Homo sapiens: one gene and its partner. The protein of the gene in region 1 interacts with the protein of each later gene in a pairwise test. Each region holds a gene or a part of one and is shown in the gene's direction. Other genes may lie near its edges. The genes, in order: BRD10 and UBTD1.

Evidence for each region.
Region 2: the proteins of BRD10 (region 1) and UBTD1 interact in a two-hybrid assay, tested with the Homo sapiens proteins (one study listed by BioGRID).

Annotation. Positions count from the first base shown.
Region 1 is NC_000009.12:5,921,397-5,925,220, reverse strand, and holds part of BRD10 (uncharacterized bromodomain-containing protein 10), read left to right. Parts: intron 1-375; coding exon 376-563; intron 564-1,911; coding exon 1,912-3,824.
Region 2 is NC_000010.11:97,564,677-97,568,391, forward strand, and holds part of UBTD1 (ubiquitin domain-containing protein 1), read left to right. Parts: intron 1-3,237; coding exon 3,238-3,465; intron 3,466-3,715. UniProt on the Homo sapiens protein: May be involved in the regulation of cellular senescence through a positive feedback loop with TP53. Is a TP53 downstream target gene that increases the stability of TP53 protein by promoting the ubiquitination and degradation of MDM2.

The DNA of each region.
Region 1 (3,824 bases):
CGCCTGGCTAATTTTTGTATTTTTAGTAGAGACAGGGCTTCACCGTGTTGGCCAGGCTGGTCTCAAACTCCTGGGCTCAAGAGGTCTGCCTACCTCGGCCTCCCAAAGTGCTGGGATTATAGGCATGAGCCACCATGCCTGGCCAGATACATATAATTTTTTAAGTTTCAAGTTTCTTATGCCTATACCATAGGTTCTGTCTTCCTGAGCATTGGCAAGACTGAACTAAGCATCTTAGACACACTTAAGATTAAAGCATTTCTAGTGACTTAATAAAAAATATTTCCATATGTAGTTTAAAATGTTAAAAGTTAGTTTAGATTCCAAGAATTTAAATCATATGTATTATTTATTATGTTGGGCATTTTATTTCAGGAGCCGCCTGAAGAAAGACTATGATGATTTCAGAAGACAACCTGATCATGATACATTTAATAGAGAACTATGGACCACTGATGAAGGTGAAGGAGATCTTGGAAAAGACTCTCCTAAGGGAGAAATCAGTAAGTCTATAGACTCAACAGAACCTCTGGATATCCTGGAGAAAGATCACTTTGATTCAGGTAAGCATTAAACTTTTTTTTTAAGTCAACACTGAAGGCACAAAGAGAAGTTTTTGTTTGCTGTGAAGGCAAAAGATAATATGGTCAATGAAATATATTGATTAGGGAAATCTGTTATGTTTTGAAGAAGTAGTGTCCACATCCTTATAAGAAGTTTCTACTAGCCTAGGCAACATAGCGAGACCCCATCTCAACAAAAAAATAAATAAAAATTAGCCAGGCATGGTGGTTGCATCCCTGTAGTCCCAGCTATTCAAGAGGTCGAGATAGGAGTATCACTTGAGGCCAGGAATTTAAGGTTACAGTGAGCTGTCCACTGCTTTCTAGACTGGGCAACAGAGCAAAATGCTGTCTCAAAAAAAAAAAAAAGTTTCTTGGAGTCATTATTACATTTCTAGGAGTTTCAGGAGCCAGTAATTGACTGCAAACTGTAGGCCTGTCATTGCCCATTACAAACCACACACCCTTGATCTGTAATCCCTTTGAAATTGGTTCATGCTCTTCTTTTTATTATTAGTATTTTTGAAGCACTGTATCTGAAATTTACTTTAGAAATAGAATTTGACAAGTTCTTAATATTGTGAAGATTATTTTTTCAGGAATTACCATGGTTGATGGCCTAATGAGACCAGAATGAACACATCATTTTAATAAGGATAAAGGGCTGGATTAGATTACCTGTAATTCATTTCAGTTTATCAGATTACGTTATGTAAATCTAGTTTAATGACTTTCTTTGGTTATGTAGAGGTTAATATGGGCAACAGAGTGGTTAGAAATGCATTAACTTATTGTTTTCCATCTTTGGCAAATTAAGAGTAATGTCTTATAAACCTAGTTTGACCGAATATGAACATAAATTTTTTCACTATAAGGATGAACATCAGTAAAAGCTGGATATTTTTTGTCCTTTAGAGTCTCTAGAAATAGAATAGATTGGAGAACCATCTCTCTATGGTATCAAAATGTTCCTAGCTAGAAAAAGAGAACTAGATTCCTTTGCAAATTAAATTCTGAGCCCTGATTGTTTATTTGGGTATTTCTAATGAAACAGTTTTTTGCACTTACACTGGCAGAAGAATTAGCAGAATTCTTGACCAAAAATTTTGACCAAAAAAATTTTCTCAATAATAGGTTTTTCTTGGGCATGGTTATGATATCTAGATTATCATGTCAAAGATGACCTTACCTTTGTCTTCATCAGTGGTGCTAAGGCTTTTGAATCACCCTGCAGTAGATTTCTTAATACACTGCCAGCTCAAAGATTGACTTTCTTTTTTACAGTTGATGTTATTACTATTTAGTTGCTGTTTTATATAAACAAAATGCCCGTTTTTATAATTTTCAGATGATATGAAGTTGTCAGAAATAGATTTTCCTATGGCTAGAAGCAAGCTGTTGAAAAAGGAATTGCCTTCAAAAGACTTACCGAAGACACTGCTTAAAACACTTAAACGACAGTCCAAACAAACTGATTATGTGGATGACAGCACAAAAGAGCTTTCTCCAAGGAAGAAGGCAAAGTTAAGCACAAATGAGACAACAGTTGAGAATCTAGAAAGTGATGTGCAGATTGACTGTTTCAGTGAATCAAAGCATACAGAGCCATCATTTCCAGAGTCATTTGCCTCATTGGATTCAGTACCAGTGTCTACTCTCCAGAAAGGGACCAAACCCATTCAGGCTTTGCTTGCAAAGAATATTGGGAATAAAGTGACCTTAACAAATCAACTGCCTCCTTCCACAGGTAGAAATGCTCTTGCTGTGGAAAAACCAGTTTTATCTCCTCCGGAAGCAAGCCCGATAAAGCCAGCATTGACCTGCCACACCAATACAAAAGGTCCTTTACAAATGGTATACAAAATGCCCTGTGGCCAGTGGTTGCCAATAGATCTTCAAAATAGCTCTGTAAAGATTCAGGTGCAGCCTATGGTGGATCCTAAAACAGGAGAAAAAATCATGCAGCAAGTTCTTATTCTGCCTAAGAATTTTGTGATTCAGCATAAAGAAGGAAAAGCAGTTGCAAAAGAAGTGCCACCACTTCAACAGAAAGGTACAGAACAACATTGTTCATCTTTCCCACAGACAACAAATATAAATTCTTCTTTAGCATCAGTTTTTGTCAACTCACCAGGAACTGTTTCTACCCAACTACCAAATACAGCTTTCAACAAAACAATTACACCTTTATCAAATATAAGTAGTGCTAGACCACAGCCTTTGTCGCCTGTAACCTCTGTAAGTAACTTATTAACACCATCAGTTAAGACTAGCCAGAGTGAGGCAGGAAAAGCCAAGAATGCAGTTTCAGCAGCCACATTCTCCTTGCCCAGTGCTTCACCGACCATTTCCTCCACAGGTCAGCCTCTGTCATCAACAACAACACTAAATGGGTCTACAAATCCTGGTAGTTCCTTCAACTGTTTTGCACAACAGACTGCTGATTCTTCTGAAGCAAAGCAAGAGCTGAAAACTGTGTGCATAAGAGATTCACAGTCAATTCTTGTTAGGACACGAGGTGGGAACACTGGAGTTGTAAAAGTACAGACCAACCCAGATCAAAATTCACCCAATACTGTATCTTCAAGTTCAGTTTTCACTTTTGCTCCTCAGCTGCAGGCATTTCTGGTGCCAAAATCAACAACTTCTTCCTCTGCTTTTTCACCTGTAGCTGGAACAACTACTACATCTAGTCTTTCACCTTTTAGCCAAACACCAACTTCTGTTTCCATTCCAGCTAGCTTTGCCCCATCCATGGGGAAAAATCTCAAACTTACATTAGGCCACACCACTGGCAGTGGTGATTTGGGCCACGTGATAGATAAAACTTCACACATGCCCTCTTCTCCCTTGAAGTCCTCTATTTGTTCTAGTACTCTACTACCATCAACAACAAGTAGTTCGGTAAGTGTAATTAGCATATCAGCAGCAAATTTTGGACAAAACAATGCAAATATTATTCATACTCCAACTAAACAGCAACAAGTAGATTATATCACAAAAAGTTACCCTGTTACAAGGTCAGAAGCAACAGCAGCAACAAATGGAGATGTAATCAGTGGGACTCCAGTTCAGAAACTTATGCTGGTATCAGCTCCATCTATTCTTTCTTCTGGCAATGGAACTGCAATTAATATGACACCTGCGCTGACATCTACAGGTGTTTCTGCCCAGAAATTAGTTTTTATTAATGCCCCAGTTCCTAGTGGTACATCAACCCCAACTCTTGTTGCAGAATCATTAAAACAAACTCTTCCTCCT
Region 2 (3,715 bases), on another chromosome or scaffold:
CCTCAGCCTCCTGAGTAGCTGGGATTACAGGTGCCTGCTGCCACGCCCAGCTAATTTTTGTATTTTTAGTAGAGATGGGATTTCACAGTGTTGGCCCAGCTGGTCTCGAACTCCTGACCTCAGGTGATCTGCCCACCTTGGCCTCCCAAAGTGTTGGGATTACAGGCATGAGCCACCACCCCCAGCCCACAACTCCTTATCTTAACCCAGACATTCCTTTCTGTTGATTCGAGGACTTAAGATAATAACTCTTTCAACCAATTGCCAACCAGAACATCTTTAAATCCACCTATGACCTTTAAGTCCCCGCCCCTTCAAGTTGTCGCTCCTTTCCACACAAACCAATGTATATCTCACATGTAATGATTGATGTCTTAAATCTCCCTAAAACATATAAAACCAAGCTGTAATCCAACTACCTTGGGCACATGTTCTCAGAACCTCTTGAGACTGCATCACAAGTCATGGCCCTCACATTTGGCTCAGAATAAATCTCTTCAAATATTTTACGGGGTTTGGCTTTTTTTGTCCAACAGTCTGTCCCTGTTCCAGTACTGTGCCAACTGTAGCTTTATAATTAATGCTGATCATGGCAGCACAACTTCTCCCACCTGATTCTTTTCTAGGAACATCTTTGTTCTTCTATATAAAATTTAGAATCAGTTTGCCAGGTTCCTTGGGAAAAAACTGACAGGAATTATATTGGAATTGTATTACATTTATAGATCAGTTTAGGGGGAGTGGACATCTCCATGATTTCTTTGAATGTTGCTTCCTTCCCATTTTCCCTATTGTATACTTCTGGAAATTCAGTTCAAAATTTTAGACCTAGCAGGGCATAGTGTCACCTATATAGTCCCAGCTGCTTGGGAGGCTGCTGGGGGAGAATACCTTGAGCCCAGGAGTTTGAGGCTGCAGTGAGCTATGATCACACCACCGCACTCCAGACTGGGCGACAGAGTGACCTTGTCTCTCAAACAGAAAAAAGACATCCGAATCTCAATTATATTGTATTTTTCTTTATTTTTATTTTCTTTTTATTTTTTTGAGACAGGGTCTCACTTTGTCACCCAGGCTGGATTTGGAGTGCAGTGGCATGATCATGGCTCACTGCAGCCTCAACCTTTCTGGGCTCAGGTGATCCTCCCACCTCAGCCTCCTAAATAACTGGGACTACAGCTGCATGCCACCATGCCCGACTAATTTTTTGTATTTTTTGTAGAGACAGGTTTTTGCCATATTGCCCAGGCTGATCTCGAATTCCTGGGCTCAAGTGATCCATCTGCCTTGACCTCCCAAAGTGCTGGGACTACAGGTGTGAGCCACTAGGCCTGGCCTGTATTTTTAATTTTTAGAAGTTCTATATGGTTCTTTTAAGATCTTCTTGGTTATACCTACTATGTACCCACAAAAATTAAACATTTTTAAAAAATCTCCTTGGTCATTCTTTATAATCTCTTATTCATATTTTTAAGGCCCTCATCCCTTAACTCAGTATTTCATAATCTATCCAAAGTCTTTGCAAATCTGATTCTTTTGTCTGCTGTTTTTGCCAGTAAAGCTCGTACTGCCTTGTTTCCTTGCATATTGAGATTTTTTTTTTTTTTTTTAAAACTATTACCTTATTTATTTTTCTTGGAACTTTATCTTGGGAATTCTTTGAGGCCTGGTTTGAAGTTGTTTTCCTCCAAAGAGGGTTTGCCTTTCCTTCTGCCACCTCACCACCCCAGGAACACTTTAAATTAAATATTTGGCTTTAGAGTTTTCTGCCCCTACAGGTAACTGTGAATTCAGATGGTGAACTACAGGATTTAGTCAGACCTGAGGTGGAACCCTCACTCACTTACTATGTGACCTGGGGCAAGTCATTTAATCTCTCTAAATCTGTCATATCACCTGTGAAATAGCAATAATAATACCTACTGCCTAAGGCTACTGCAAGAATGAAATGGGATCATGTATATAAATAAAGGCTTGCCTGGGGTTCTTTCTCAGCGGAGATCGCTGCCTGCAATTCTCTTCCTTGCTTCCTTTTGCCCCAGCCAGTGGGAGCAGCCTGGTGGTGGCCCCCAGCCTCAGTTCTTCCACTCACTGTAGGACCTGAGTTATAGTGGAAGCAGAGTGCTTCACATCTCACTCCTGTGGCTCACTCTGCCTTTAGTTTTGAGATGACTGAGCCTCCAAAAGCCTTTGAGAGATACCTCTGCCCTCAGTCTTGGCTGTGGTTTGGAGTTGTCTTGGAGGTCACTTGGAGCTGGGTAACAAGAAAAATGACATTTGACAGAATTGTTTTCTTTGTCAGATGCTGCAGGAATTTTTGGGGGAGTTTGTTGGTCATGATTGCTTAAAAAATCCTTTTTTTAAGTGGGACATTAGTAACAAGATGTTAAAATTGTTAATAATTTTTTTTTTGAGACATGGTTTCGCTGTGTTGCCCAGGATGGAGTGCAGTGGCATGACCACAGCTCACTGCAGCCTCAACCTCCCAGGCTCAAGTGATTCTCCCATCTCAGCCTCCCAAGTAGCTGGAACTAGAGGAGCGTGCCATCATGCCTGGCTAATTTTTAAAATTTTTTTGTAGAAACAGGGTTTTACCATGTTGCCCTGGGTGGTCTAGAACTGCCGGGCTCAAGCAATCCTACTGCCTCCCAAAGTGCTGGGATTACAGGCGTGAGCCACCGCGCCCTGCCCCACATCATGTGGGAAGGGTGCGGTGGCTCACGCCTGTAATCCCAGTACTTCGGGAGGCTGAGGCGGGTGGATCACGAGGTCAGGAGTTTGAGACCAGCCTGACTAACATGGTGAAACCCCATCTCTACTAAAAATACAAAAATTAATCAGGCGTGGTGGTGGGCGCCTGTAATCCCAGCTACTCGGGAGGCTGAGGCAGGAGAGTCGCTTGAACCCGGGAGGCGGAGGTTGCAGTGAGCCGAGGTCATGCCATTGCACTCCAGCCTGGGCAACAAGAGTGAAACTCCATCTCAAAAACAAAAAACAAAAAACAAAAACAATGGTAGCGTATGCTTTGCTGACACAATTATTTTATGTCCCTAGGTTGGTTATGTGAAGTTTTCTGACTCTTCCCTGCTATTTAGGAAGGGCTTCAAAGACCTGAATACTTAGTAGCCAGTGCAGCAGGGTTTCAGGGTCTGGCCTGGGGAGGGGAGGGGAGGGGGAGGGCAGGTTGCAGCTCAAGTGGCTTTAGAGATGCTGAGCCTCTCCTTCTGTCCTGCCCAGGACGCAATGAGCCCCTGAAGAAAGAGCGGCTTAAGTGGAAGAGCGACTACCCCATGACTGACGGGCAGCTGCGGAGCAAACGGGATGAGTTCTGGGACACAGCGCCTGCCTTCGAGGGCCGCAAGGAGATCTGGGATGCCCTCAAGGCTGCCGCCTATGCTGCTGAAGCCAACGACCACGAGCTGGCCCAGGCCATCCTGGATGGAGCCAGCATCACCCTGCCTCATGGTAAGTGGGCAGGGCCAGGGCTTTATCCCCGCTGGAGCTAGGGGGTCACCAGCACAGTTTGAGGGTGTTGAGGAGTGTGGAGCGGTGGGGCAGGTGGTTACTCACGTATTCATTCATTCAAGCACCCCTTACTGAGCATGGACCAGGAGTGGGTACACAAAGAAAAAGAGACACAGTCTATGCTTGCCTAATGACATGACAGAAAGACAACAAACCTGCAAAGCAGTGTCACAAATGCACTTTGGGACCC